7 linked regions of the Homo sapiens genome follow. The protein of the gene in region 2 purifies or fractionates together with the protein of the main gene of each other region. This does not show direct contact. Each region holds a gene or a part of one and is shown on either strand. Other genes may lie near its edges. The genes, in order: HEPHL1, NSMAF, PADI3, TCHH, EPB41L2, NEK9 and DSG4.

Region 1 (4,115 bases), on a different chromosome or scaffold from region 2:
CTAATTTTTCTCATTTACAAATATATCAGAAACACATTTTCATGTCGGTGAATATAGAGCTTACTTCATCATGGTTAATACTTCCAGTGTCCATTATAAGGAGATTACATCTTGCTTAATCAATACTCTATTGCTTAATGCTTATGTTTCCCACCAATTTTTTTGCTATTATAAACAGCACTGATGACTATTATTTATAGATGTTTGCACTTTTGTCTGAACATTTTCTTAGAAAAACTCCTAGATTTAGAATTTCTGGGTCAAAGAGTATGATTTTTTTAAAAAAGCTATGGACATACATTGCCACATTCTCTTTTGGAAATTGTTATTCTTCTACACGAAGTGTATGAGTATGGCTCTTTCCCCATTCATCTACCAACACTGAGAATTATTAGTCTTTCTAATCTTTACTAATCTGATCAATGAACAATAGTATCATTTGAAAACTGTTAAGGTTTGAGTACTATTTGAGTACTGTTAAGGTTGAACCTCTTTTTCATTTGTTTATTGGCCAATATTATTTATTTTGTGAATAAACTATTTCTGTTCCTTGCTCATTTTCTATTGGAGATTTACTTGTTTTCATCTTTATCTGTAAAAGTGATTTACGTATTAATCTTTTGTCATATGTGTCACAAATATCCCTCCTGTTGCCATTTATCCTTTTTAAAAAAACTTTCTTTATGGTCCAATTTTCTGTACAGAAGCCTAAATGTTCAAGAGCCAAATCTATCAGTCTTTTCCTATATGATTCCTTTTGTGATCATTTATGCCTCAGCTCGTGGTTTTCCTCTGTTCTGCAGCTGGTATGCTGGGGCAATACAATGTTGATAACTGCAAAAGTGATATTTTCTACCCCAAGATGAAGGGTCAACAGAGGCGCTACTTTATAGCAGCTGAAAAAATTCTTTGGGATTATGCTCCTCAAGGCTATAACAAATTCAGTGGTCTTCCTCTAAACGCCTCTGGCAGGTAAGCACCCTTTGTTGGTGTTTCTAAGCCTCTCGTCAGAGAAGCATGTGTTAGGCTTTCTCTGTGATCTAATTTGTATTCCAACCACTGCTCTGATGAGCTTATACTGCATAGATGGCATAATGTAGCTGCTTAAGGTGTTCTTAATACTGCAAAAGCACTGCTGAGAACTGGTAGAATATTTTTTGTTTTGTGACTTGACGGCTGAATCAAAACACTAGATCATTCACTCATTGATCAAACATTTCTTGAGTAGGCACTATGTGCAAACTATAGTGCAAAGTGCCATTAGAAATACTAAGCTGACAAAGAATAGAGTAAGGCCTTTACACATATGGAGCAGACAGTCTTGAAGAGGGAATGACAGGAGATGGAGATGACCTGGCCTAAGAGGGTTACCCTTTTTGGTTCAAGGATATCCTGATTTAAGTTGTGTCCCCTTTATGTCCTACAAATATTCTTTTCCTTTCTATTCAGTAAAATGCCATTTTTCTTTCAAAGCCTTACTCTAATGTCACCTCTGAAGTGAAACCTTTGACTCTTGATATAAATGAATTATGTTCTCTCTGCGCTCCCATAGAATATACTATTTAAAAAATTAATCTAGCAATTTATTAGGTGGATCTGGACTCCTGTGACTTGTTAGTATATAATCATATGCAAAGTTGTCTGTGAAGATACTAAAAAATGTACAGTGTGATATCAAGAATCCTTTTTTATATTTAAGGGAATGTTTTAAAAATTCTCTTTGTGATCAATAAAACATCATTTGTTTCTTTAATTGTACATTTTATTCATTCATTCATTCATTCATTCATACTTTCACTCATTATTCTACCAAACGGATGCACTTGAACCCTGTCTAAAGAATTTGTGTGAACCATATGTGAAAGACTCTGATATCAACATTCTCTATTGACTAGTATTTCTCCATAAACAGAATAATGAGAATTAGCATTCAAAATTGTCTTAGGAGCCTTCTAGAATTCTGAAGTGCCTTCTGAAATAGGAAAGATTAAACTATATTCAATCAATGTTTAATGTGATATATGAAAGCACAAAGTGCAAGATGACATGAGGGATGCAAGGATATCTAAAGCAATAAAATGCAGAGGAAGAAGCTGGGTTCACAAGAGTAGAGAAGTAACTGCAAGTTACAAATAAAAGTGAGGTGAGTTGTCCTGGTAGTGAGTTATCTGGATGCTCAGAGAGAGCTAAGCTGGCCAGGGAACACATTATAGAGGAAGTGAGACTTAAGCAAAATCTTAAGGAGTGATAGAATTTATTTAACTGAATAGGGAAGAGAGGAATTTTAGATGGAGGGGTTGATGCAAAGCACCTGTGGCATGGGAGGAATGAACAGATGAGACTGCAGTAACAATTTGCATAGAAGAATGGGCACTGGCATGGAGAAATAGAGAATTGGGGTAAACGGGATATCAATTGCAGAGGTCCTTTAATCTTTTTGAACATTATTTGATTGGCAATTGGAAGCAATTGAAGATTTTGGAGCAGGTAAATAGCAATAACAATTGCCATTTTGGAGATTAATGTATTAAGTGAAAAAATAAGCACAGTCTTGGCCATTGAAAGTAATTTGTAATCACGGTCTTGGCCATTATGACCATTATGGCTTACTTTTGCACCAATCTAATAGTTGTGTGTCTATGCTGAGAAGAAAAGTGAATGAGCCAGTATCAGATAGAGGATGCAGTTCAGAGGTTCATATAATGGGCTCCACCCAGTGTGATTAGGGCATGAACTGGGGTCGTGGTAGTGGGAAGAAAGGAAAAGAAAAGATGCACAAGGAGGATAGAAAAGGAAGAGTGCCAAAAAATTTTACAAAGTAAGGATGAATGAGTTAAGGGAATGAAGCAGAAAAAGAAAATCTACGTGGCTGCAAGAGTGATGGCACCATTGATGGAAATAAGATAGTATAGAGACAGTATTAGTCAGAATTTATATTATCATATTCACGACTTGGAAATTTTGCATTTCATGCATATGGTTTATATGGTAGCCCTCCAATAATTACACTATTTGATTAACTAGACACTCCATTCCTTAATAATGCCAGAAATCAAAGAGCTTACTAGATGCAGAGAATATTCATATTAATATCAGCAAGAGAGAGAGGGATGCTTATTCTGCAGAGAAACCAGTTAGCTCTTTGTTACTTTGTAGAACACCATTCTGGAACTCTACTATTGGTAAATAAGGAGTTTACTTGTGACTGGTTCAGTGCTGGACCTCTTGGGAAGAAAGTACAATGGCTGAGAGAAATGAGCTTGAGTATCACCCAGCCTCTGAAGACTTTTAGGGCTGGTTAACTATTCCTGGGAACTCTGTCAAGGCCTGTGCTGTCTTTTCTGGGGACATGGGTGGGCGAGTGGACTAAAAGTGATAGAATGAAGTTCTATAATTAAAGTATTTGGTGGATATGTTGAGAAGTGTCCTCAATCACATTCCTATGTCTTTTCAGTGACTCTGATCTCTACTTCACACAAGGGGACAACAGAATAGGAGGAAAATACTGGAAGGTTCGGTATACTGAATTTGTTGATGCAACTTTTACTAAAAGAAAGAGACTCTCTGCTGAAGAAGCCCATCTTGGAATTCTTGGTACAGTAAAACCATCCCCCATGCATTGAACCCAGGGAGATGTTTTAGCTGGGCATGTACATCTGCACAGAATGACTCTTCTGCTTTACTTCTTTCTGTCTCTTTTCATTCTCTTCTCTCTCTTCTTCTGGATATTTTTTCAGGCCCAGTCATCAAGGCAGAGGTGGGTGATACCCTGTTAGTGACCTTTGCCAACAAAGCCGACAAGGTCTATAGCATTTTACCCCATGGTGTGATCTATGACAAGGCATCTGATGCAGCCCCAAACCTAGATGGTAAGTCTCACTCTGGGCTTAGGGAGGAAACAGGACGGGTGAGCAAAGCACTTAGAAATAAACAGTCCTGGTTCAAATCCTGGTCCTTTCCATTACCTGCCCTGAGAGCTTGGGCAATCACTTAAACTTTCTGAACCTGATTCTCTCCTGTCAAATGCAGATAACAATACTCACCTCACAGGGCTTTGGAAAGGGATGGAGAGAATTTAGGACAAGGTCTGGCCCATGGTAGGTTCTTAGGAAATG
Region 2 (4,115 bases):
ATTATTTGTGTTCTGTCCCAAAGCATCCAGGATCCTGATGAGAAGGTAGCCATGCTTACGCAAATCTTGGAATTTGGGCAGACACCAAAACAACTATTTGTGACACCACATCCTCGAAGGATCACCCCAAAGTTTAAAAGTTTGTCCCAGACCTCCAGTTATAATGCTTCTATGGCAGATTCCCCAGGTAAATTTTGTAAAGAGAATAAACGTGAGCACCTTTTGTTTCTCTTCTGTGATGAAAATGTTTCTGAAGAGGAGATAAGACGTATACTGTTGTGCTACTTAGAGATGATTGTGTTCTCCTGCCTTATTGCAGTTCTCCTGAAAACAGATACCTGTTTTTGCTGATGTTGTTTGTTTTCAGCTATAGACTGTAAGGGAAATCAAATCGCTTTTATTTTCTGGCAATTGAATATGAGTGAAAGTTGGCCATATATGTTTTGATGTGGTTCTCTTTCTCTTCTGTGGTTTTGAAGCTGGTGTTTGATCCTTAGCTATTTGCCTTTTCATTCTTACAGTCCTAGCTGTCCAGTCTGCCTTCCCAGTCACTGTCAGCCCTGCTGTCTTCCAGAAGGGACTTTCTCTGGCCCTAATTATGCTCTTCTATACCCACATACAGATCTTTTTTTTTTTTTTTTTTGAGACGGAGTCTTGCTTTGTCCCCCACGCTGGAGTGCAGTGGCGCCATCTCGGCTCACTGCAAGCTCCGCCTCCCGGGTTCACGCCGCCGTTCTCCTGCCTCAGCCTCCTGAGTAGCTGGGACTACAGGCGCCCGCCACCACGCCCGGCTAATTTTTGTATTTTTAGTAGAGACAGGGTTTCACTGTGTTAGCCAGGATGGTCTCGATCTCCTGACCTCGTGATCCACCCTCCTCGGCCTCCCAAAGTGCTGGGATTACAGGCCTGAGCCACCGCGCTCGGCCCCACATACATCTTGAATTCAAAGTGCTCTCTCTTCTTCATTGGATTTCACTTATTTAACATTTGACAAACATTTACAGGGTATCTGTTCTGCGCTGGGCATGTGCTAGGCACTAAATTGAACTTGACCCAGTTCTCACATCTAATATTTGGAAAGGTAGGAAAGAACACTCACCTTTCTCCAGTTACCCAGGTTTTAGATTTTACCTAAGACAACTTCAAACCTACAGGCTTCCAGAAGGAGGTTGACACTCTGTGGAGCTTTGGGAGCAAAATCACTTTTTATCTCCTATCCTCCTGTCTGTTCCAAGGACATCCAGACATTTTAGGCATACATAGATGAGCATTCTCTCAAGCATGGAGAAATAGCTTCCTGGAGTTACATGACCCAGGGGTAGCTTCTTTAAGAGAGAATACTCTAGAGGGTTAAATCATGAAGATCACAGGATTATCTTGTGATGCTGTTTCAAACTGCACTCTGCTTAGTCACCAGGCTGTAACCACTGTCATGTGATTGTTTTAAGATGGTAATTGTTTCAGCCCTTCTTAAAGCAGAAGTAAAAGGATTACTCCTGCCAGAAGCCCTTGCGGTAATTGATTTCATCTCTGCTTTCCCCACCCCACACCAGAACAAAATTGTTGCATTCTTAGGCAACTGTCAGGTTTTTGAAACAATGTTGACAAGGAAATGATGACTCAGTCTTGTATTTCCCCAAATTCATAAGTTAGAGGCCGAGTGAAAACTTTGCAAACATTGTTAAAGTATAAAAAGATTCTAGTATTATTCAAAGATACTTTTTATCTTTCTCTATACAATTTTTTCCTTGACTAACGTGGAACCATCTAACAGGTACATTTCAAAGCAGTTATATTGTGACAGGGTGTTTCATTTCTTAGTTGTTTGATTTTAATAGAAAATATTGTTAATCTGATGCTGTTGTCTGTTGGTAACTTAGTTGACTTAGCAAAAATTTAATGTCGTCTCTCCAGGTGAAGAGTCTTTTGAAGACCTGACCGAAGAAAGCAAAACACTGGCCTGGAATAACATCACCAAACTGCAGTTACACGAGCACTATAAAATCCACAAAGAGTAAGAATATCTCTGCTTCTTCTCAGCAGCTGATAGTCCTGGTAAAAGTTAGGGTCTTGGCATGGGATTAAACTGTTTTAAGCTGAGTCAGAGGGAAAATTCCCTTTCAATGTTGTCTTTATTTTTAAAAATCTCCCCAAAATGTCTATAGTGATCTCCACCTGAGGTTGATGTAGTAGGGAAAGTTTGGCACGAAATGATTTGTGGTGGCTACCGTGCTGTCATTTCTGCAGTCTGTCACTTCACAGTACAAGATGTGGTCGGCAGAGAGCAGCCAGTTTTGTGCCTCTCAAATTGGAGTACACAGCTCCTTGAATCTTTGATGGGAGAAGTGTGATGTATACCCCACGAGTGTTGGATTTACACATAATGTAGGTGAAAAGGCACCTTTTAAAAAAATTAGCTCTCCCAGAGAACATTGCAAAGTTCACATGAATTTTAAAAATAATTATGCTTCTAAGAAATTGGGCTTGCTGTTGGACCCAGAGATGATATGTGTGTTCTCTGCCCTCTCTCATTAAGACCTTCATGTTCTCTGGTAGAAAGGCTCGAGAAGCACTGACCTAGCCTGTTCATCCTGCTACAGAGAGGAAACCCAGGTCCAGAGACTAGGCCCCACCTAGCTCCATGACGACAGACAGCCCCTCCGGCATACAGGTCATGGGTGGAGCTGGGCATACTGCTGTGCATTAGATGGATGGCTTCACATCACAGTCCAGCCTCCCGAAGAGAAACAAGGAGTTTTGGCTGATTCATGATGACAATGGCTGTCTTTTCTCAACTTCTCTAAATGGCACATAGGAAGGGACCTTGTAATCCAAGGTAGTGAAGACTGAATGATCCTTTAAGAGGACAGGCTGGAACCAATTTTCTCATCATTGAATAGTCACTGAGTAAATTAGCTTCAGTAATCAGCAAGTGAAGTGACTGTGAAGAAGAGTTTGTCCTTTTGGTGATGGTCAAACGAGGGGGAATAGAAGGAGAAGAGTTTTCCAATTGCCAGAAATTGTCAGGAATATGTAAAGCATTGCATGTGGAACACAGGGAAGCAAAGAGTGGGGATGTTTTCTAGCCACAGGCGTTGCCAGAACGTTAGAAGGTGCCAAGCAGTGATTTGGTAATGGCAGGTTTATGCTGGGACAGATCCGGCAGACATGCTGTGAAGAAAAAAATTAAGGAAACTTGGTAAAATTAAATCAAGGATATGAAACAAAGAGGGTATCCTAACACATGATGAGTAGTAATTTGTGAAACTTTGTTTTTGAGCAGAGCAGTTACTGGAATCACGGTCTCTCGCAATGGATCTTCAGTATTCACAACATCCCAAGGTCAGTGTTCCTCCCCGAAAGGCGGCTTAACCAAAATCCTAGAATGTCTGAGTTCTTTATTATTTAGCTCGTGGTCAAGGACTGCACTTGCATGTGCTGCCTCCACATAAAGTAAACTTAGAGCAGTTCCTTTGTGGTACATTACATAGAGTTTCATGGTAATTTGCCAAAAATAATAATGAAACATCTTTCTGTTGCTGATGAGGTTTCCCAGAGTTGAGGATAGAGGACAGAAACAGCCTCCTTTCCACACCCTTGCTGGGTCAGGCACTTCCTGCCTGCCCATGAGAGGTGCGCTGTCCACTTGTTGGGGTTGGCTGTGAGTAGCAAGTGCTGTATCAGAAATTGATGTGTGCCTGTCAGCACGTGGAAATGCAGATTTGCTGTTACGGTTTGCAGTTTTGTCATTCAGTGTATATTTCTTCGGGATATTTGATTTAGCTCAAAATCAAATTCATGTATTATTTAATATGCTTATACATTATCAAAATTATAAAAACCCTTGCAGTGTGTCATTGATATGACTTATAGCTGTAAAGCAGAAAGCATCCCTTACTATATACACCATTGTTCTCTCCCTGGTAGTCTGCATTATATATTATTCATTAAAGTATGTCTTGGCCTTGTCATGTTGAGAGCACTGTGTTGGCACTCTGGAAGATGCAGAGATGGAAGGGTAGTATCTTTGCTTCCTGCTTCCATGAGAAAACAACTTGTTCTGACAAAGTTTGTAACTTTATAAAGTAAGGCTACTCGTTATTTAGTCTTTATCA
Region 3 (4,115 bases), on a different chromosome or scaffold from region 2:
TTACCCTCTGCCTCCTCTTGCAGACATCTCTCTGGATTGCGACCTGAACTGTGAGGGAAGGCAGGACAGGAACTTTGTAGACAAGGTAAGCATCTCTGCCTGGGCCCAGGAAGCAGGAGTGCAGTTGGAGCTTGCTCTAGGTTGGGTTAAGAAGGATGAGGCCATTACAGATATCCCCCTGCCTCCCAGCTGATGCCGAGACCAAGGGCCAAAAACAGAAACCAGGCATGGCTGGGGATCTTCTTTCACCAGGAGAAAAATCATCGCCAGGAATTATCAGGCATGGAGGTACCCAGCCCTGAGCTAGGCCTTGGTTTGTGGGATCAAGACCTTCTGGACTCATAAACTAGGTCAGGAGTGGGCAAACTTTTTCCGTGAAAAGTCACATAGCAAGTATTTTAGGCTTTGTGGGACATATGGTCTCAATTCTGCCACTATAGTGTGAAAGCAGCCACAGTTAATACAGAAATGGATGGATGTGACTGTGTGCTAATAAAACTTTATTTATACAAACAGGCAGTAGGCCAGATTTGGCCCACAGTTCATAATGTGCTGATCCTGACCTAGGCGAGAAGAGAAACCAAATATGAAACTGTTGAAGAACTTGGGACTGAATTATGTTGGAACTTGGTGCCCTGGGAGTTAAGAGGAGAAGGTCGAGGTGGGCTGGGTGGGTGAGGAAGGCTTCCTGGAGGGACGTACCCTTGAGCTGAGCTCTGAAGGGGTGCAGGAGGGAGGACGTTCCAGGTGCAGGGAATGGCAGGAGCAAAACCAAGGAGGGTTTAATGGAGGAATGAGCACAGAGTGAGGCGTGTGGTCCTATAATCAGGTTGCCTATTGAGAAAGAGGATGTTGGCTGAAGGCCCATCACAGATAGCCATGAAAGACAGCTCTGTGCTTTGGACTGGATGGTGTGGGCAACAGAGAGCCATTGCCATTGACATGTCTTGAGAAGGAGGTGCTTCGAGAACGTGGACCTAGCCTCACAGGGTTGGGTGGTTACAGGCCAGGCTCGGGTTCCTGGGTAGGGAGGCACAGGTCTCATCTGAGCCCTCATCACTGGCTATGTTTTGTCATTGGCAGCGGCAGTGGGTCTGGGGGCCCAGTGGGTATGGCGGCATCTTGCTGGTGAACTGTGACCGTGATGATCCGAGCTGTGATGTCCAGGACAATTGTGACCAGCACGTGCACTGCCTGCAAGGTGAGGCCGGGGCAGCCTGAGTCCCTGGGTGTCCAGGGTCACTGCTCAGTTACCCCATGGGAGTTCCAACCCACAGGCGAGACTCTGAGGCCAGAGTCCAGGGGAGAGCGCCAGCCTCCAGACACACCTCGATGCTCCTCAAAACCCATCTCAGGCTGGCAGCTGCCCCTCCCTAGTGTCTCTAGGGCCAGTGAGCACTCACATGCCAGGGCAGAAGCTCTGGAAATGAGCCACCTCGCCATTCTCTTCCTCCAGGGGAGCAGAGGATGCTAGCATTATTTGAGCACCTACTGTGTGCCAGGCCTTTTCCCCAAATTCTCATTGAATCATCCAAGTGGGACAATATCATCACCCCAATTTAGAGATGAGGATGCTGAGACTCAGAAGCCAGGAGACTCCCTGAAGACTGTGTCTGATCTGGGGCCTCCCCTCTCAACCCCAAATCTGGGCCTCCTCCTTCAGCACCTCTGGCCTACATTTCTGTGACTCCCCCACCTCTTGCTAAGTCCATCTGTCCTGAATTCCAGCCCCATGGAGAATGAGCTGCAATATTCCAGGGTATGCTAGGTGCTGTCCACGGGAGATGCCCACGGTTGCCTTCTGAAGTGGGCACCATTGGACATGGGGATGCTGGGGCTCCAGAAGGGAGGGGCTTGTCCAGGGTCACAGGGAGTGATGCTGGGATGGAGGCCAGAACCCTTACCTGCACGACGCCCACATGGCCTTACCCTCCTTGCTTCTCTGGAGCACCTGTTGTGTGTCAGACACCAGCTGGCTATGCCACACTTCATGTTTCTCTGGGCAATTGAGGAAACATGAGTCCAGGAGAGCATAGATGTCTTCATGGTTTGTTCTTGATGGCTTCCAGGGTTTTCACAAAGCTAGGGCTGGGAGACCCAGGTCTTGATACCCACTGACCTGGGGAGGGAGCTGGGCAGCAGAGGAAGGGGCCAGGGGCCAGGACTCCCTTGAGTCACTACCACTCTGTCTGGCTTCACAGACCTGGAAGACATGTCTGTCATGGTCCTGCGGACGCAGGGCCCTGCAGCCCTCTTTGATGACCACAAACTTGTCCTCCATACCTCCAGCTATGATGCCAAACGGGCACAGGTCTTCCACATCTGCGGTGAGTTTGTGCCACTGCCCCTTGCCATCTGTGCCCTGTTGCCAGGTTGCCTACCAGGGAACCTCCTGTTCCTGCCTTGGGCCATGGGCAGGTCCTGCTTACACTCCGGGAGATGCCCTGGTGGGTGGCGGGTCGCAGTAAGAACAGTCAGAAGTGGGGGCTTTGGAACTGATGAACTGGTGCCCCCAGCACAACACCTGGCCTGAGGTCATTTTATTTGATGAATGACCTTTTCAAATACATTTTAAGCATGTGTAGAAATTCTTATCAAAAATTTCAAACATACACAAAAAGCAGTGCTGTGAATCCCCATGTGCCTGTCACTCAGATTAAACAATTATCACTGTTTTGTCTGTCTCGCTGAAGTTTTGTAAAACCAACCCCAAACACCATAGATTTCACCCAATTAATTCAGTTTGTATTCCCCCCAAATATAGATGGCTGTTGTTTTACATAGTCTGCCAAAATCACAAGAAATACAAGTAAAAATCTAAATGCCTTTGAGAAACTAAAAATGTATACAAGTAATAAGATGCTTTTTTTTTTTTTTTTTTTTTTTTTTTGAGACAGAGTCTCGCTCTGTTGCTCAGGCTGGAGTACAGTGGCGTGACCTCGGGTCACTGCAACCTCCACCTCCTGGGTTCTGGCGATTCTCCTGCCTCAGCCTCCCAAGTAGCTGTGACTGCAGGCATGTGCCACCACACCCAGCTAATTTTTTGTATTTTTAGTAGAGACAGGGTTTCATTGTCTTAGCCAGGATGGTCTCAATCTCCTGACCTTGTGATCTGCCCGCCTCGGCCTCCCAAAGTGCTGGGATTATAGGCGTGAGCCACCGTGCCTGGCCGCTTATTTTTTAAATAATCAGACAATATGGAAGTATAGAAAATGAAACCTGAGAGTTCTCTACCCGTCTCTAAATCTGACTTTTTTTTTTTTTTTTTGAGTCAAGGTCTTGCTCTGTTGCCCGGGCTGGAGTGCAGTGGCATGATCTCAGCTCACTGCAGCCTCCACCTTTCAGGCTCAAGCAATCCTTCCACCTTAGCCTCACGAGTAGCTGGGACTACAGGCATGTACCACCACACCCTGCTAATTTTTTTTTTTTTGTAAAGACAGGGTTTCACCATGCTGCCCAGGCTGGTCGTGAACTCCTGGGCTCAAGCAATCCACCCGCTTTGGCCTCTCAAAGTACTAGGATTATAGGCGTGAGACGCCGCACCTGGCCTGAATCTGATTGTCACTGTTAACGAGTTGGGATGTGTGCTTCCCAACTTTATTCTACATGTTCTCCAGCGTGTGTCCATATGCTGCTTTCCAACCGGCTTCTTTCATTAAGTAATAATCCCACACACCTTTTCTGGTATTTATTGAGCTCTACTTCATTCTTTTCCACTGCTGTATAATATTCCTAAGCATAGAGGTGCTGTGACTTACACAGTTCTCTGAACATCATAGTGGTTTGCAGTGTTTTGATTTTATAACAATGCAGGTTGCTTGAGGTCAGGGGCTTTGTTCAAGTCCAGAACCGTGCCCCATGGGTGCACTGTAGTTGCACAGTAAATATTTGATGAATTAATGAATATCGAGCACTCTTGTACAGAAATATTATGTGACTTTGTACCTATTATTGTTTGTTTGTTGTTGTTGTTTTGTTTTTTGTTGGTTTTGGTTTTTTTTGAGATGGATTCTCGCTCCATGCCCAGGCTGGAGTGCAGTGGTGTGATCTTGGCTCACTGCAACCTCCGCCTCCTGGGTTCAAGCAATCCTCCTGCCTAAGCCTCCTGAGTAGCT
Region 4 (3,929 bases), on a different chromosome or scaffold from region 2:
GCTGGAGCTGAGGAGGAAGGGCCGCGAGGAGAAACAGCAGCAAAGGCGAGAGCGGCAAGACAGAGTGTTCCAGGAGGAAGAAGAGAAAGAGTGGAGGAAGCGCGAGACAGTGCTCCGGAAGGAAGAAGAGAAGTTGCAGGAAGAGGAGCCGCAGCGGCAAAGAGAGCTCCAGGAGGAAGAAGAGCAGCTACGGAAGCTGGAGCGGCAAGAGCTGAGGAGGGAGCGCCAGGAGGAAGAGCAGCAGCAGCAAAGGCTGAGGCGCGAGCAGCAACTAAGGCGCAAGCAGGAGGAGGAGAGGCGCGAGCAGCAGGAGGAGAGGCGCGAGCAGCAGGAGAGGCGCGAGCAGCAGGAGGAGAGGCGCGAGCAGCAGCTGAGGCGCGAGCAGGAGGAGAGGCGCGAGCAGCAGCTGAGGCGCGAGCAGGAGGAGGAGAGGCGCGAGCAGCAGCTGAGGCGCGAGCAGGAGGAGGAGAGGCGCGAGCAGCAGCTGAGGCGCGAGCAGCAGCTGAGGCGCGAGCAGCAGCTGAGGCGCGAGCAGCAGCTGAGGCGCGAGCAGCAGCTGAGGCGCGAGCAGCAGCTGAGGCGCGAGCAGCAGCTGAGGCGCGAGCAGCAGCTGAGGCGCGAGCAGCAGCTGAGGCGCGAGCAGGAGGAGGAGAGGCACGAGCAGAAGCACGAGCAGGAGAGGCGCGAGCAGCGGCTGAAGCGCGAGCAGGAGGAGAGGCGCGATTGGCTGAAGCGCGAGGAGGAGACGGAGAGGCACGAGCAGGAGAGGCGCAAGCAGCAGCTGAAGCGCGACCAGGAGGAGGAGAGGCGCGAACGTTGGCTGAAGCTCGAGGAGGAGGAGAGGCGCGAGCAGCAGGAGAGGCGCGAGCAGCAACTAAGGCGGGAGCAAGAGGAGAGGCGCGAGCAGCGGCTGAAGCGCCAGGAGGAGGAAGAGAGGCTCCAGCAGCGGTTGAGGAGCGAGCAACAACTAAGACGCGAGCAGGAGGAGAGGCGCGAGCAGCTGCTGAAGCGCGAGGAGGAGAAGAGGCTCGAGCAGGAGAGGCGAGAGCAGCGGCTGAAGCGCGAGCAGGAGGAGAGGCGCGATCAGCTGCTGAAGCGCGAGGAGGAGAGGCGCCAGCAGCGGCTGAAGCGCGAGCAGGAAGAGAGGCTCGAGCAGCGACTGAAGCGCGAGGAGGTGGAGAGACTCGAGCAGGAGGAGAGGCGCGAGCAGCGGCTGAAGCGCGAGGAGCCGGAGGAAGAGAGGCGCCAGCAGCTGCTGAAGAGCGAGGAGCAGGAGGAGAGGCGCCAGCAGCAACTAAGGCGCGAGCAGCAGGAAAGGCGCGAGCAGCGGCTGAAGCGCGAGGAGGAGGAAGAGAGGCTCGAGCAGCGGCTGAAGCGCGAGCATGAGGAAGAGAGGCGCGAGCAGGAGCTAGCTGAGGAGGAGCAGGAACAGGCCCGGGAGCGGATTAAGAGCCGCATCCCGAAGTGGCAGTGGCAGCTAGAAAGCGAGGCCGACGCACGGCAAAGCAAAGTCTACTCGAGGCCCCGCAAGCAGGAAGGGCAGAGGCGCCGCCAAGAGCAGGAGGAAAAGAGGCGGCGCCGGGAGAGTGAGCTGCAATGGCAGGAGGAGGAACGGGCTCACCGGCAGCAGCAGGAAGAGGAGCAGCGCCGGGACTTCACATGGCAGTGGCAGGCGGAGGAAAAGAGCGAGAGGGGCCGTCAGAGGCTGTCGGCCAGGCCCCCATTGCGGGAGCAGCGGGAGAGGCAGCTGAGGGCCGAGGAGCGCCAGCAGCGGGAACAACGGTTTCTCCCGGAGGAGGAGGAGAAGGAGCAGCGGCGCCGCCAGCGACGCGAGAGGGAGAAAGAGCTGCAGTTCCTGGAGGAAGAGGAGCAGCTCCAGCGGCGGGAGCGTGCCCAACAGCTCCAGGAGGAGGAGGACGGCCTCCAGGAGGATCAGGAGAGGAGGCGAAGCCAGGAGCAGCGCCGCGACCAAAAATGGAGGTGGCAACTAGAAGAAGAAAGGAAGAGACGCCGCCACACGCTGTACGCCAAGCCAGCCCTACAAGAGCAGCTGAGGAAGGAACAGCAGCTGCTGCAGGAGGAGGAGGAGGAGCTACAGAGAGAGGAGCGCGAGAAGAGAAGGCGCCAAGAACAGGAGAGACAATACCGCGAGGAAGAGCAGCTGCAGCAGGAGGAAGAGCAGCTGCTGAGAGAGGAACGGGAGAAAAGAAGACGCCAGGAGCGGGAAAGGCAATATCGGAAGGATAAGAAGCTGCAGCAGAAGGAAGAGCAGCTGCTGGGAGAGGAACCGGAGAAGAGAAGGCGCCAGGAGCGGGAGAAAAAATACCGCGAGGAAGAGGAGTTGCAGCAGGAGGAAGAGCAGCTGCTGAGAGAGGAACGGGAGAAGAGAAGGCGCCAGGAGTGGGAGAGGCAGTACCGCAAAAAAGACGAGCTGCAGCAGGAAGAAGAGCAGCTGCTGAGAGAGGAACGGGAGAAAAGAAGACTCCAGGAGCGGGAGAGGCAATATCGGGAGGAAGAGGAGCTGCAGCAGGAGGAAGAGCAGCTGCTGGGAGAGGAACGGGAGACGAGAAGGCGCCAGGAGCTGGAGAGGCAATATCGGAAGGAAGAGGAGCTGCAGCAGGAGGAAGAGCAGCTGCTGAGAGAGGAACCGGAGAAGAGAAGGCGCCAGGAGCGGGAGAGGCAATGTCGGGAGGAAGAGGAGCTGCAGCAGGAGGAAGAGCAGCTGCTGAGAGAGGAACGGGAGAAGAGAAGGCGCCAGGAGCTGGAGAGGCAATATCGGGAGGAAGAGGAGGTGCAGCAGGAGGAAGAGCAGCTGCTGAGAGAGGAACCGGAGAAGAGAAGGCGCCAGGAGCTGGAGAGGCAATACCGCGAGGAAGAGGAGCTGCAGCAGGAGGAAGAGCAGCTGCTGAGAGAGGAACAGGAGAAAAGGCGCCAGGAGCGGGAGAGGCAGTATCGGGAGGAGGAAGAGCTTCAGCGCCAGAAAAGGAAGCAGCGATACCGGGATGAGGATCAGCGCAGTGATCTGAAATGGCAGTGGGAACCAGAAAAAGAAAATGCAGTTCGTGATAACAAGGTTTACTGCAAAGGCAGAGAGAATGAACAGTTCCGGCAGTTGGAAGATTCCCAGCTGCGCGACAGACAATCCCAGCAAGATCTGCAGCACCTGCTGGGTGAACAGCAAGAGCGAGATCGTGAGCAAGAGAGGAGGCGCTGGCAGCAGCGCGACAGGCATTTCCCAGAGGAAGAACAGCTGGAGCGAGAAGAGCAAAAGGAAGCCAAAAGGCGCGACAGGAAGTCCCAAGAGGAAAAGCAGTTGCTGAGAGAGGAAAGAGAAGAGAAGAGACGCCGTCAAGAGACAGACAGAAAATTCCGCGAGGAGGAACAGCTGCTCCAGGAAAGGGAGGAACAGCCGCTGCGCCGCCAAGAGCGTGACAGAAAATTCCGCGAAGAGGAACTGCGCCATCAGGAACAAGGGAGAAAATTCCTCGAGGAGGAACAGCGGCTGCGCCGCCAGGAACGGGAGAGAAAATTCCTTAAGGAGGAACAGCAGCTGCGCTGCCAGGAGCGCGAGCAACAGCTGCGTCAGGACCGCGACAGAAAATTCCGCGAGGAGGAACAGCAGCTGAGCCGCCAAGAGCGTGACAGAAAATTCCGTGAAGAGGAACAGCAGGTGCGCCGCCAGGAACGAGAGAGAAAATTCCTGGAGGAGGAACAGCAGCTGCGCCAGGAGCGTCACAGAAAATTCCGCGAAGAGGAACAGCTGCTCCAGGAAAGGGAAGAACAGCAGCTGCACCGCCAAGAGCGTGACAGAAAATTCCTGGAGGAGGAACAACAGCTGCGCCGCCAAGAGCGTGACAGAAAATTCCGCGAACAGGAACTGCGCAGTCAGGAACCAGAGAGAAAATTCCTCGAGGAGGAACAGCAGCTGC
Region 5 (4,115 bases), on a different chromosome or scaffold from region 2:
TGGAAGTTTTAAGAGTATTTTGTTTTTCTCTTTTTTTTTAATTTTTTCACCCTATTGCACTTTTCATCATTTATTCTCCCCTATCTCCCATTGTACTTCTTTCCATTCAATTGAATTCATTTAGTTGACCCCCATTTACCTAACTGTCAAGGTTAAACTGAATTCTGATATAATCCTGGCCACTCATATTCTTACCTGTGAACTTAATGAATGTGCATTTATTTCCTTACAAATTTCTTTGATGGAATATTGATTAGAAGGAATCAGTAACATGTCCACTCTATTTGATGCTGGTTAGACTGCCACATATGCCATTGTGACCTTGGGCAAATTATTTCTCAAAGCCTCGTTTGCTGTAGTAAGGGGTTAAAAATCATACCTACCTCAGAGTTACATGAGGATTAAATGAACTAATGCTTATAAAATGCTTCATAGAGTGCCTGGCATCTGTAAAAATTGTTAGGTTAAGAAGAGACCTAGTGGGTTGGTTACTGGTGAATATGTGGTAAGCAGATTTTTTGCAGTGGTCAGGAATAATTATCTGTGTGGAAGTACAGTCTTTGAAATGAAACAGTAATTTCCTATGGTGATCACAAGTTAAAACCACTTTTTAACAATTTCAGTCCAGTATCTATAATGTTTGAGCTTTTAGAAACTCTTGTCTTAACTTCATTCTTTTTGTTAATTTACAAAAGAGCATATATATGGGAAAACAGTTGGGATCTAGTTTCAACAGCACAGGGATAATGTAGTCTTTTTTGTTATGTTGCCAGAGGTAACTGATTATAAATGTAAAATTGTGTGCATATGTTCTAACTTCTTCTCTCTATAACCACAGTAAACTTGTTGAAAAAAGCCTATTAGTGAGTAGAATTTTTGTTGACAATGTTTAAACCTCTGCATATGGCATTAAAATGTAACCTTTATAAATCTTTGTGTGAAATATACCTGCACACATATTTTCCAGCAACATCGTGTTTTAACTTGTTAGTTGCCAACATTAAGAAATCAGGTTTCATATAAATATCCTTATTTTAGGCTAGAAAAATTAGATGATGGTGTAGCACTTGGTCCACTGGGTCCACTGGGTCTATTGTGTCTATTGCTTCTGGTGCTGTCACGCATCAGCTGCTTTGCTTAACCTGTCCCTGACGCACGCATTTTATGCTCAGTTCTAGCTTTGTTCTAGGTTCCATTGTAAGTAATCCTGTAAGGCCTGAAGCTTTGATAATCAATAACCATGTAAAAAAAAAATAAGGAAGCTAATGGTTTTGCAGCACAGACTACACACCAGGTGCTATAATTGGTACTTTACATATGTTAATAACCCTGCTTCTTTTTTGCAGCACCATCTTGGAGTAGCTGGTGTGCTTATTTTACGGATGAGAAACTGAGGCTTAAAAATTGAATAAATGGCTCAAGGGCACCCAGCTTGTGTATGGCTAAAACCCTTGTTTTTTCTGTGAGTTCCAGTTATTGCTTTTAATTGTTCGATGTTATTACTCAGTAGAAGTTGAAGTTTTTTGCAATTTGTTGGCATCTGCAGTATCTAACTTTTATAAAAGACAGGATTGCTTTCCTGACTGGGTTCGCCCATGTAGTTTTTTGTGTAAAGGTATGATTATGAAGCAGACCTGAGTACTACTTTTAGTTGTGTGATTCTTGAATCATGCTGGAACAGGGAGTACCCTTCATCTTGTTTTTCAGACTAGAGACATTTAAAGTAATGTTTCTAGCCTGATTTTTCAATATTAGAAAAATATACCAGAGGATAAAACACATCAGAATAAAATGTGGCTCTCCCCCGACCTTTAGTTTCTGCCTTTCCTGTGGTTTTGCACTTTTTGCTTTCATTTAAAGTGCAAATGGCATTCTCCAGGGTGCTTTATATGATTTAGAAAGTCAGGTAGTACTGCAGGGATTATGAAAAAAAGCAGCAGACCAGTGCCCTAGCTCCCTTCTTGACAGATTTCTGCTCCCCTGAGGCAACTACTTGTTGGAGGCCAAAAGAATGAGGGTCATGATCAACTCAGTATACCACTGGAGGTTATATGAGTAAGCAGCAAACTGTTTTTCATAAATGCAGAATGTTGGCAAACTGACAGACTGCGTATGCCACCCAGAAGGAATGCTGAAGGCAGTCATGCCCAAAGCACAGTGTTTCTTGTGATTAGGTACATCTGAAGCCTGTTAGTAACAATATGAACCTGTGATCAATTAAGCAGCTGACCAATCCTTACCTCCTTCTCCCTGCTCTTGTTACCCAATAAATATGAAGGGCTGTGGAAGCTCAGGGGCTGCCTTTGCTCACTAGAAGCAGGGAGCTCTTTTCTTCTTCCCCTGGCCCTTCCTTTAAAACAGTTCCTTTTGTTTTTTTGTTATTTCCATGTTTGTCCCTTCCTTCAGTCTCGTAATGACGGTCTCAAGTAGTAACAGTAGTAACTGTTGTAGTGAAGGTCTCAAGTAGTAACTGTGGCAATGTGCCACAAGTGGCGCCCGAACAGGGACTATCAGTGACAAACAGAGACCTGAAGAGACCTGAAGGGACCTGAGGAGGCCTACAGGGACACATAGAGATAAGTAGGGATAAATAGAGATAGAGACAGATAGGGAAAGATAGGGACTTGCACCAACTTGGAGGAACTAACAGGGACCGTAGAGACAGACAGGGACAGACAGGGATAGATAAAGACTAGCAAATACTAGCAGAGACTAGCAAAGACTAGCAGAGACCAGCAGAAGCTAGCAGAAACTTGCAGGGACAGACAGGGACAGATAGAGACAGGGTCCTATAGGGACTTGAATGAGGAAGTTCTGCTGGAACAGAAAAAACTAAAACCAACCAGACAAATGAGAAACCCCGTTACAAGTCTGCTTGACAACATAAGGAGATGAACAAACTGTGTGGGTGCCCTCAAGGTGTGTGCGACCATGGAATGGAAGACTGGAGAGATCCATGGATTCTAGCTACAGGCCTTGTTCCCCTAATACGAGCCATGAGCCAGTTGAATCTGAATGCGAAGATGGAATGAGGACCGACCGGAGTCACACTGACATCAACCCTCATGACATGGGGATAGATCAAGAAAACCACACAGGAAGCTGAGACACTGTTAGTGTCAGGGTCAGGCAAAGACCCCTGACTCCATGTTTGTGGCCATGCTGGCCATGGTTTCCTGTGCCTCCCGTTGTAAGATCAGCTGGACCACCAACTGGCAATTAAGGGCTGCACAGCCTGTAGTTGCCTTTCTCAATTAATTAAAAAACAAAAAGGGAGAAACGTTGGAGGTCGAAAGAATGAGGGTTATGATCAACTCAGTATACCACTGGAGGCTATATGAGTAAGCAACAAAATGTTTCTCATAAATGTAGAATGTTGGCAAACTGACAAACTGTGTATGCCACCCAGAAGGAATGCTGAAGGCAGTCACGCCCCAAGTGCAGTGTTTCTTGTGATTAGGTACATCTGAAGCCTGTTAGTAACAATATGAACCTGCGATCAGTTAAGCAGCTGACCAGTTGCTACCTCCTCCTCCCTGTTCTTGTTACCCAATAAATACGAAGGGCTGTGGAGCTCAGGGGGGCTGCCTTTGCTGACTAGAAGCAGGGAGCTTTTCTTCCCCTGGCCTTTCCTTTAAAACAGTTTCTTTTTTTTTTTTTTTTTTTTTTTTTATCATTTCCATGTTCGTCCCTTCGTCCCGTCTCCTAATGAGGGTCTCAAGTAGTAACAGTAGTAACTGTTGTAGTGATGGTCTCAAGTAGTAACCGTGACAGTCTGCCACAACTACTTTCACTAGTTTTGGTTTTATTTTCTGGTGTTTTGTCTCTAAATAACATGATTTTCTTGTTTCTTGATTTTTTTTTTAAAGTTTCAGAATATTTTTATGTTTTATTATTTGTTAAAATTTACTTGCTGGGCACGGTGATTCATGCCTGTAATCCCAGCACTTTGGGAGGCCGAGGCGGGCAGATCACCTGAGGTCAGGAGTTTGAGACCAGCCTAGCCAACATGGTGAAACCCCATCTCTACTAAAAATACAAAATTAGCCAGGCGTGGTGGTGCATGCCTGTAATCCCAGCTGCTCAGGAGGCGGAGACAAGGAGAATCGCTTGAA
Region 6 (4,115 bases), on a different chromosome or scaffold from region 2:
TATAATTTCACCCTCACACTAAAGTGGCCATCATTACCATGATGAATGTGGAAAAGTGTAGGTGTTATGGGTCAGACTGGAATCTGATCTGGCCAAGCTGTGATGAAGCCCTGAGGCAGGAATTGCAAAGTCTGCTGTGATAGAGCACATTGAAACAAGTTGTCGAGAAAGAACATACTTTCTCATACCATAATTGGCAGTTCTTCTCAGGGAACAGACTGGAAGCATTTTTCTTTGATATTGTTTTTAATGTTAAATGTTCCTTTGTTCTGGGGGTTGTTGGCAGGTCAAGCACTGTGACTGAAGCACCCATTGCTGTAGTAACATCACGAACCAGTGAAGTCTATGTTTGGGGTGGTGGAAAATCCACCCCCCAGAAACTGGATGTTATCAAGAGTGGCTGTAGTGCCCGGCAGGTCTGTGCAGGGAATACCCACTTTGCTGTGGTCACAGTGGAGAAGGAACTGTACACTTGGGTGGTAAGTGAACGCTAAGCATTTTGGAACAGTGCTGTAAGCCTAATTGTTTACTGGGCCCACGATGTCTAAGCATTTTATTAGTTGAACCTATACTAAGGGAGTGGCAACATGGGGTGATGGAATGGAAGCTCTTATAAGAGCAGGGATTTTGTCTGTTTAGTTCACTGATGTATGCCCAGGGCTGGTACATATTAGGTCACCTATAAATGTTTTTTGAATGAATGAATGAGAGAGGGAGAGAAAAATTGAAAGACTCAGGAGACTGGGGTTTCCCATTTACAGCTGGATGATTTCAGACAAGTCACTCAATTACTCTGTTATATTACCATGAGGTTCAGAGCAACTATTACCTGTGAAATAGCTTTGTAAACAAAGGAAGGACTATACCATGTCAGGAAACCCCTGAAGCCCACAGCAGTGATTGAAGATGGCTAGGTATATTTTGTGTAGAATTTGTTTGTTGCCCTCTAGATTCTCCCCTCTCACCTTCCTTAACAAATTGTCTGTGTTTGCTGTCTGTTTCCTTATCTCCCACTCTCTCTTCATTCACCTACAATGCAGCTTCCATCTCTGCCACTGCCACTCAATTGAAACTAGTCTTGACAAAATGACCCATAAATTGCTAAAATAAAACAGATGCTTTTTAGTCCTTACCTAGCTTGACCTCTCGGCAGCATTTGACATAGTTGACCACTCCCTCCTTCTTGAAGCTTTGTCTTTACTTGCCTTCTGTGATAGCATGTTCTCTTGGCTTTCCTCCTGTCTCTTGCTATGCGTTCTCAGGCTCATTTCAGGCTGCTGGAGAGAAATTAGTATCTTAAACATTTATTGGCTGGGCGTAGTGGCTCACAACTGAAGTCTCAGCACTTCGGGAGGCCAAGGCGAGTGGATTGTTTGAGGCCAGGAGTTTGAGACCAGCCTGGCAAACATGACAAAACCCCATCTCTACTAAAAATACAAAAGTTAGCTGAGAGTGGTGGCGCATGCCTGTGATTCCAGCTACTCAGGAGGCTGAGGCATGAGAATCACTTGAGCCTGGGAGGTGGAGATTGCAATGAACCAAGATTGCACCACTGCACTGCAGCCTGAGTGACAGAGCAAGACCTTGTCTCAAAAAAAAAAATATATATATATACTGTCACACACACACACACACACACACACACACACGCACACGCACACACATATATATATAAAATATGAGGACTTGTAGTATACTCATTTAATAGAATTATTTTTCTCTATAAAACTGTTGAAAAGGCCAGACATGGTGGCTTACACCTGTAATCTCAAAACTTTGGGAGGCCGAGGCGAGTGGATCACCTGAGGTCAGGAGTTCGAGACCAGCCTGGCCAACATGGCAAAACCCCATCTTTACTAAACATACAAAAAATTAGCCAGGCGTGGTGGCGGGCACCTGTAATCCCTGCTACTTGGGAGGCTGAGGCAGGAGAATCGCTTGAACCCAGGAGGCAGAGCTTGCAGTGAGCTGAGATCGAGCCACTGCGCTCCAGCCTGGGTGACAAGAGCGAAACTCTGTCTCAAAAAAAAAAAAAAAAGTTGAAAAGTCATCAAGGACTAGTCTCATTGCTGTATAGCAGCCTCTTTGATGTAGCCAGATTCTTTATAACTCTTCCATGTTTCAGGGAAACTGTGACCAAAATTTATGAAACTTCTAGTACAGATTTTCAAGAAGCTATATTCCTGTAGAAAGCAACAAAGTTAGACTATATTATAAAGAATTTTTTTCACCATCACCTGTAATTAAATATATAGTTTACCTTAGACTTGAAGGACAAAGATTAGATTAATGGATATTAATCTGGATACTTTTTAAGTTTTCTTTACCTGTTGGCAGGATCTGTATACTACTTGCTATTAAAATGTTTAATCCCTTTGCCCATTTTTTTCTAATTTCTAAATTTCTAGCTCTTTTTTTCTACTGTTTTTCTTCATATGAAGTTCCATTAAAGATCAGCTTTTGGCATGAAAAATTAAAACTTCATAAGACCTCTCAGCCGGGGATGGTGGTTCATGTCTACAATCCCAGCACTTTGGGAAGCCGAGGCAGGAGGATCACTTGAGCCCAGGAGTTCAAGACCAGCTTGGGCAACATAGCGAGAACCCATCTCTTTAAAATTTAAGTTTAATAAAATGTAATTAAAAAAAAAAGTCATAAGACCTCTTTATTTCACAGAACATGCAAGGAGGCACTAAACTCCATGGTCAGCTGGGCCATGGAGACAAAGCCTCCTATCGACAGCCAAAGCATGTGGAAAAGTTGCAAGGCAAAGCTATCCGTCAGGTGTCATGTGGTGATGATTTCACTGTCTGTGTGACTGGTAAGCCATCAGCAGAAAGTGTCTTAAGTGCATTTAATGTGGGGGTATTTTGCTTAATGCTGTGCAATCTTAGTTGGGATTTTAAAACAAAAGACAGTATACAAAGAACCAGAGGACCTTGAGCAAATATACTCATTAATAATAACATACCAAATTTGCTATAGTATTAGGGGGTGGTGAGCAAGGAGAAGACAGGTGGGTAACAGAGAAGAGGTGGGATCAGGAGAAAATGTGTGTCGTGGTTGGCAGGAAAAATAATCTTACCACCTCATCAGGCTATGAATAACACAAAATTAGGATCAAGACCTAAGTTTAGTTTTGGTCTTGTCATTACTTAGTTAATGATTCCTTGGGACTTATTTTTTTATCTATATAACAAAGATGGCCCCATTAAAATTTTAAGTCCTTTTAATGTGATAATGCTACCACTTTTTAAATTGTTTAATATAGTAGTAGTAGTACACATGACTCTCTGACATAGAACTCTAGACTTGCACAGTCTGTCCTTTTAATTTCTTGGATATAATCAATTCATGTGAGATCATTTGCTGGGGTAGTCCTCATTCCAGCCCTGCCCAACTTTCTGATTAGATAAAATAAGTCAGTCCTTTGATGGATTCTGTTTTCCTTTCTTTTGCAGATGAGGGTCAGCTCTATGCCTTCGGATCAGATTATTATGGCTGCATGGGGGTGGACAAAGTTGCTGGCCCTGAAGTGCTAGAACCCATGCAGCTGAACTTCTTCCTCAGCAATCCAGTGGAGCAGGTCTCCTGTGGAGATAATCATGTGGTGGTTCTGACACGAAACAAGGAAGTCTATTCTTGGGGCTGTGGCGAATATGGTAGGGGTAGCCTTGTCTCTGTCCACTTCTTCACAGGTATACAACCTGACTTCAAAGTTGTATGCATCTAAACCCATCATGCAGCCCCTAAATGAGAAGTGTTAATTCAGTAAATCTTTTTTTTTTTTTTTTTTTTTTTTCTCGAGACAGAGTCTCTCTCTGTCACCCAGGCTGGAGTGCAATGGCATGATCTGGGCTCATTGCAACCACCACCTCCCGAGTTCGAGTGATTCTCCTGCCTCAGCCTCCCGAGTAGCTGGGATTACAGGCACACACCATCACACCCAGCTAATTTTTTGTATTTTTAGTAGAGATGGGGTTTCACCACACTGGCCAGGCTTGTCTCGCTCGAACTTCTGACCTCATGATCCACCTGCCTCGGCCTCCCAAAGTGCTGGGATTACAGGTGTGAGCCACCGCACCTGGCAAAAGAGAATCTTACAGAACCTATTC
Region 7 (4,115 bases), on a different chromosome or scaffold from region 2:
TTGGCCCTTTGTATGCAAAGAAACTCCGTGACTGAACATCCCTGTGAGCCCAGCTCCATCCTGTTCCGGAGTGAAGGAGGACTATGAGCTCAGTTTCTGCAATCACGCCGCTGGCCTTGCTTTGGAGGGCTCCCGGCTGGATCAAGCCCGCAGCAGCCACGGCGGGAACGGGCGCCTGCTTGTAGTTCTCTTGGCTAGTTCTACACCTTTAAGTCTAGGGCGAAGTCTGTGCAAATGTGGGAAGGCCACGTCCCACCACTGACTCCCTCTGTGTAATTAATTTACTTTTATTTGGTCAACAAGCCTGGAGATGTATCGGTGTAACTTGTATCTCTCTTTGTCAGCTTTTTAGCGCCTACGCCTTGCCGGGTGGTGGTGGCACCGCAGACGGCGGCGGCAGCGTTTTAGGCAGATGCGCGCTGCAGGCAACTCCAGCGCTGTTAAACCAACATCCTCCCTTTTCAGAAATCTACACCAACACCTATGCAGCCGGGGGCACGGTGGAAGGAGGTGTATCGGGAGTGGAGCTCAACACAGGTATGGGGACAGCCGTTGGCCTCATGGCCGCAGGGGCCGCAGGAGCCTCAGGGGCCGCAAGGAAGAGGAGCTCTACCATGGGAACCCTGCGGGACTACGCTGACGCAGACATCAACATGGCTTTCTTGGACAGCTACTTCTCGGAGGTAATGCCCTCACAGTCACACATAAAATCGTCTTGAGATTGAATAATAATAATAGTAAAATACTCACAATGGTAGTAGGCCTCTTCGGAAATATGCTGTTATTCTCAACCCTATCCCAAACCTGAATAAAAAGTATTTCACGTCTCCTTAAAACACAAAATGCTAATTTGCCACAGGATTTCATATTCAACTGCCATAGCGCATCTTAGTACCGTGAACAAGGCCACACCCCTCATCATTCTCCACTTCCCTTTTCCATTTTTCTATCTTTTGTTTCCTTGATTCCTCACCTTGTTTCCCACAGCAGTAGCAAAGCAGGAAAATGCTCATCAAGGGGAAAAAAGGTGCATTTATGACCTCTGTTTTTGATGTCCTTCATGTTCTCCCGGAGCCTCCAACAGAAAAGAGAAAATAAAAAGAATTGGGAACGAAAGGAGTTAAAACTCAGGAACGCAGCATCACCACAACTCGTGCTAGATTAAGACCTAGAAGATAGCTCTCCTATTCTCAGTCCAGTGACTTATCCACCAACTGACCTTCACTACGAAAAGGGGTCCAGCAATAGCACTGCTGGGTATATATCCAAAAGAAAGGAAATCAGTATATCAAAGAAATATATGCACCCCCATGTTTATTGCAGCACTAGTCACGTAGCCAATACATGGAATCAACCTGTGTCCATCAACTGATGATTGGACTTCTAAAATGTGATTCATATACCCAATGGAATATTATTCAGCCATAAAAAATGAAATTTTGTCATTTTGCAACAACATGGATGGAACTGGAGGACACTGTTAAGTGAAATATGCCAGGCACAGAAAGACTAATTTGACATGTTCTCACTCATCTGTGGAAGCTAAAAGGAAAAACCGAACTCATGGAGATAGAGAGTAGAATGATGGTTACTAGAGGCTGACAAGGGTAGTAGGGAGGGGAAACAGTGGGATGGTTAATAGGTGCAAAAATACTGTTAGAATGAAGAAGATCTAGTATTTGGTAGCACAACAGGATTGCTATAGTTAACAATAATTTATTACACATTTTAAAAGAACTAAAATAGAACTAGAATTTTATCTCATATTTCAGTCGGCCTGCTTTATTCTCCATCTGTTCATACATGAATTTCACCATGATTCTTTACCAAACAAATGCTGAAGATGTTGTTGCAATTGTAAACTATATCTTAAAATTGGTAGTTACAAATGCTATCACAGAATGTGCATGGATAGTATCAATTATTTTAATGAGTGATTGATACCATTATTCAGTTTATTCCGTAACAACTTAACTCAGAAGTCTCTCTGAGGGATTGCTGTTATTCTTCCTTATTTTAGGGAAAAAGAAATTTCTAATTCTGTATTTCCTTTTAATTTTAGAAAGCGTATGCTTATGCAGATGAAGATGAAGGTCGACCAGCCAATGACTGCTTGCTCATTTATGACCACGAGGGAGTCGGGTCTCCCGTAGGCTCTATTGGTTGTTGCAGTTGGATTGTGGATGACTTAGATGAAAGCTGCATGGAAACTTTAGATCCAAAATTTAGGACTCTTGCTGAGATCTGCTTAAACACAGAAATTGAACCATTTCCTTCACACCAGGCTTGTATACCAATCAGTACTGACCTCCCTTTGCTCGGACCTAATTACTTTGTTAATGAATCTTCAGGATTGACTCCCTCAGAAGTTGAATTCCAAGAAGAAATGGCAGCATCTGAACCCGTGGTCCATGGGGATATTATTGTGACTGAGACTTACGGTAATGCTGATCCATGTGTGCAACCCACTACAATTATTTTTGATCCTCAGCTTGCACCCAATGTTGTAGTAACCGAAGCAGTAATGGCACCTGTCTATGATATTCAAGGGAATATTTGTGTACCTGCTGAGTTAGCAGATTACAACAATGTAATCTATGCTGAGAGAGTACTGGCTAGTCCTGGTGTGCCTGACATGAGCAATAGTAGCACGACTGAGGGTTGTATGGGACCTGTGATGAGCGGCAATATTTTAGTAGGGCCAGAAATTCAAGTGATGCAAATGATGAGTCCAGACCTTCCCATAGGCCAAACCGTTGGCTCCACATCCCCCATGACATCTCGACACAGAGTAACACGATACAGTAACATACATTACACCCAACAGTAAGTGCTTTATGGTCAGTATTCTATGTGGAGACCTTGCACCTTGTAATCATCAATACATCCACCAAAAATATATAATGTACCATATATATTAATAGTCAACAAATACTCAGATATTCTAAGGTCAATGCCATTATTTGATTATACCATTTTGAGGGTGAATATGGCTAGGCACTTTAGATAAGCCTTTTTAAAATTCTTTCTGATTTTAAATAATGCGTCAAAAAATGTGCAGAAAATGTATTGCATCCCTTGATACTGTCTAACGAATAGCACATAACTCATATTGTGAATCCTATGGGTCTTGAGGCCTGTAGAACCAATCTTGTAAACCAAGATGCCTTGTTCTTGGAAGTTACAAAAGAAGCCCTGTCTACATCCACCAGCCATATTTTTCGTTAGGGAAATATTTATATTAAAATTTTTAATTGAAAAGTTGAATGAAATGTACATTCTGAAAGGAAATTGAAAAGGAACGTAGAGTATCTGTCAATATCTTTAGATATCTGAAGTCATTTGTCTCTTCAAAAGATTTTTCAATATTATGCGCTATTAAGCAATAGGAGATGCTTAATATAATAAGAAAAGAGTTTGCCAACTGAAAGCATGGCTGGAAATGGTTCATCAAAGAAAAATATATATTTTTATTGAACTTTATTGATTTATATGATTAACTGTAAATTAATCTAGAATAGCAAAAAAAAATGACAATCCTAAAGTAGAAAGAGTTATTGGGGAAATATTAGAGTTTTCCCCACTTACAGGGAATTTTTTCCCTACTGTTGCCAATTATGTCAGAAAAATACATGAAATATGGCTTAACCAATTTCATTGACCTGAATCGTAGAGCTTTCAATTGGCAACCAGATATTCTCCAAAAGCACTCTGTAGTTATTCATATATTCTACAATATTTACTTAGAAGCAACTAGGTGTTGGGTGCTAGTCTTGGCTCTGTGAATATACAGGTAAAGAAGACAGACATGGTTTCTGCCTTCATAGAGCTTCTATTCATTTCTAGACTTAAAATAAAACTCTGGGATATGGCTTTAAGTTCCTAACAACAATAATTAACCAACTACTTAAGTCCATTACCAAGTTGTGTTTCTCTTTGCAACACTACTGTTTATGTTGAATAAATAAAATGGAAACACATTGCTTACTTTTCGTAGGCATAAAGCTGACTTGAGAAAAAGAATCTCTAGCCAGGTAATTTTACTTAATTCTGTAAAATATGTATACAGTAGCAGCAATAATGTGACTGAGATAATGTAAATGAAATAAACTTAT

Evidence for each region.
Region 1: the proteins of NSMAF (region 2) and HEPHL1 purify together in Homo sapiens (affinity purification with mass spectrometry; 2 studies listed by BioGRID and IntAct, with this or other methods). This does not show direct contact.
Region 3: the proteins of NSMAF (region 2) and PADI3 purify together in Homo sapiens (affinity purification with mass spectrometry; one large-scale study listed by BioGRID and IntAct). This does not show direct contact.
Region 4: the proteins of NSMAF (region 2) and TCHH purify together in Homo sapiens (affinity purification with mass spectrometry; 2 studies listed by BioGRID and IntAct, with this or other methods). This does not show direct contact.
Region 5: the proteins of NSMAF (region 2) and EPB41L2 purify together in Homo sapiens (affinity purification with mass spectrometry; one large-scale study listed by BioGRID and IntAct). This does not show direct contact.
Region 6: the proteins of NSMAF (region 2) and NEK9 purify together in Homo sapiens (affinity purification with mass spectrometry; one large-scale study listed by BioGRID and IntAct). This does not show direct contact.
Region 7: the proteins of NSMAF (region 2) and DSG4 purify together in Homo sapiens (affinity purification with mass spectrometry; 2 studies listed by BioGRID and IntAct, with this or other methods). This does not show direct contact.

Annotation. Positions count from the first base shown.
Region 1 is NC_000011.10:94,069,571-94,073,685, forward strand, and holds part of HEPHL1 (ferroxidase HEPHL1 precursor), read left to right. Parts: intron 1-803; coding exon 804-972; intron 973-3,454; coding exon 3,455-3,594; intron 3,595-3,737; coding exon 3,738-3,869; intron 3,870-4,115. UniProt on the Homo sapiens protein: Is a copper-binding glycoprotein with ferroxidase activity. It oxidizes Fe(2+) to Fe(3+) without releasing radical oxygen species. May be involved in the regulation of intracellular iron content.
Region 2 is NC_000008.11:58,593,459-58,597,573, reverse strand, and holds part of NSMAF (protein FAN), read left to right. Parts: intron 1-23; coding exon 24-187; intron 188-1,498; exon of another isoform or gene 1,499-1,514; intron 1,515-1,717; exon of another isoform or gene 1,718-1,774; intron 1,775-1,914; coding exon 1,915-2,014; intron 2,015-2,719; exon of another isoform or gene 2,720-2,804; coding exon of another isoform or gene 2,805-2,836; intron 2,837-3,283; coding exon 3,284-3,342; intron 3,343-4,115. UniProt on the Homo sapiens protein: Couples the p55 TNF-receptor (TNF-R55 / TNFR1) to neutral sphingomyelinase (N-SMASE). Specifically binds to the N-smase activation domain of TNF-R55. May regulate ceramide production by N-SMASE.
Region 3 is NC_000001.11:17,265,636-17,269,750, forward strand, and holds part of PADI3 (protein-arginine deiminase type-3), read left to right. Parts: intron 1-23; coding exon 24-85; intron 86-431; exon of another isoform or gene 432-661; intron 662-1,083; coding exon 1,084-1,201; intron 1,202-2,201; coding exon 2,202-2,327; intron 2,328-4,115. UniProt on the Homo sapiens protein: Catalyzes the deimination of arginine residues of proteins.
Region 4 is NC_000001.11:152,108,644-152,112,572, reverse strand, and holds part of TCHH (trichohyalin), read left to right. Parts: coding exon 1-3,929. UniProt on the Homo sapiens protein: Intermediate filament-associated protein that associates in regular arrays with keratin intermediate filaments (KIF) of the inner root sheath cells of the hair follicle and the granular layer of the epidermis.
Region 5 is NC_000006.12:131,052,992-131,057,106, reverse strand, and holds part of EPB41L2 (band 4.1-like protein 2), read left to right. Parts: intron 1-4,115. UniProt on the Homo sapiens protein: Required for dynein-dynactin complex and NUMA1 recruitment at the mitotic cell cortex during anaphase.
Region 6 is NC_000014.9:75,106,049-75,110,163, reverse strand, and holds part of NEK9 (serine/threonine-protein kinase Nek9), read left to right. Parts: intron 1-286; coding exon 287-479; intron 480-2,676; coding exon 2,677-2,821; intron 2,822-3,461; coding exon 3,462-3,662; coding exon of another isoform or gene 3,663-3,698; intron 3,699-4,115.
Region 7 is NC_000018.10:31,410,766-31,414,880, forward strand, and holds part of DSG4 (desmoglein-4 isoform 2 preproprotein), read left to right. Parts: intron 1-344; coding exon of another isoform or gene 345-465; coding exon 466-683; intron 684-2,062; coding exon 2,063-2,830; 3' UTR 2,831-4,115.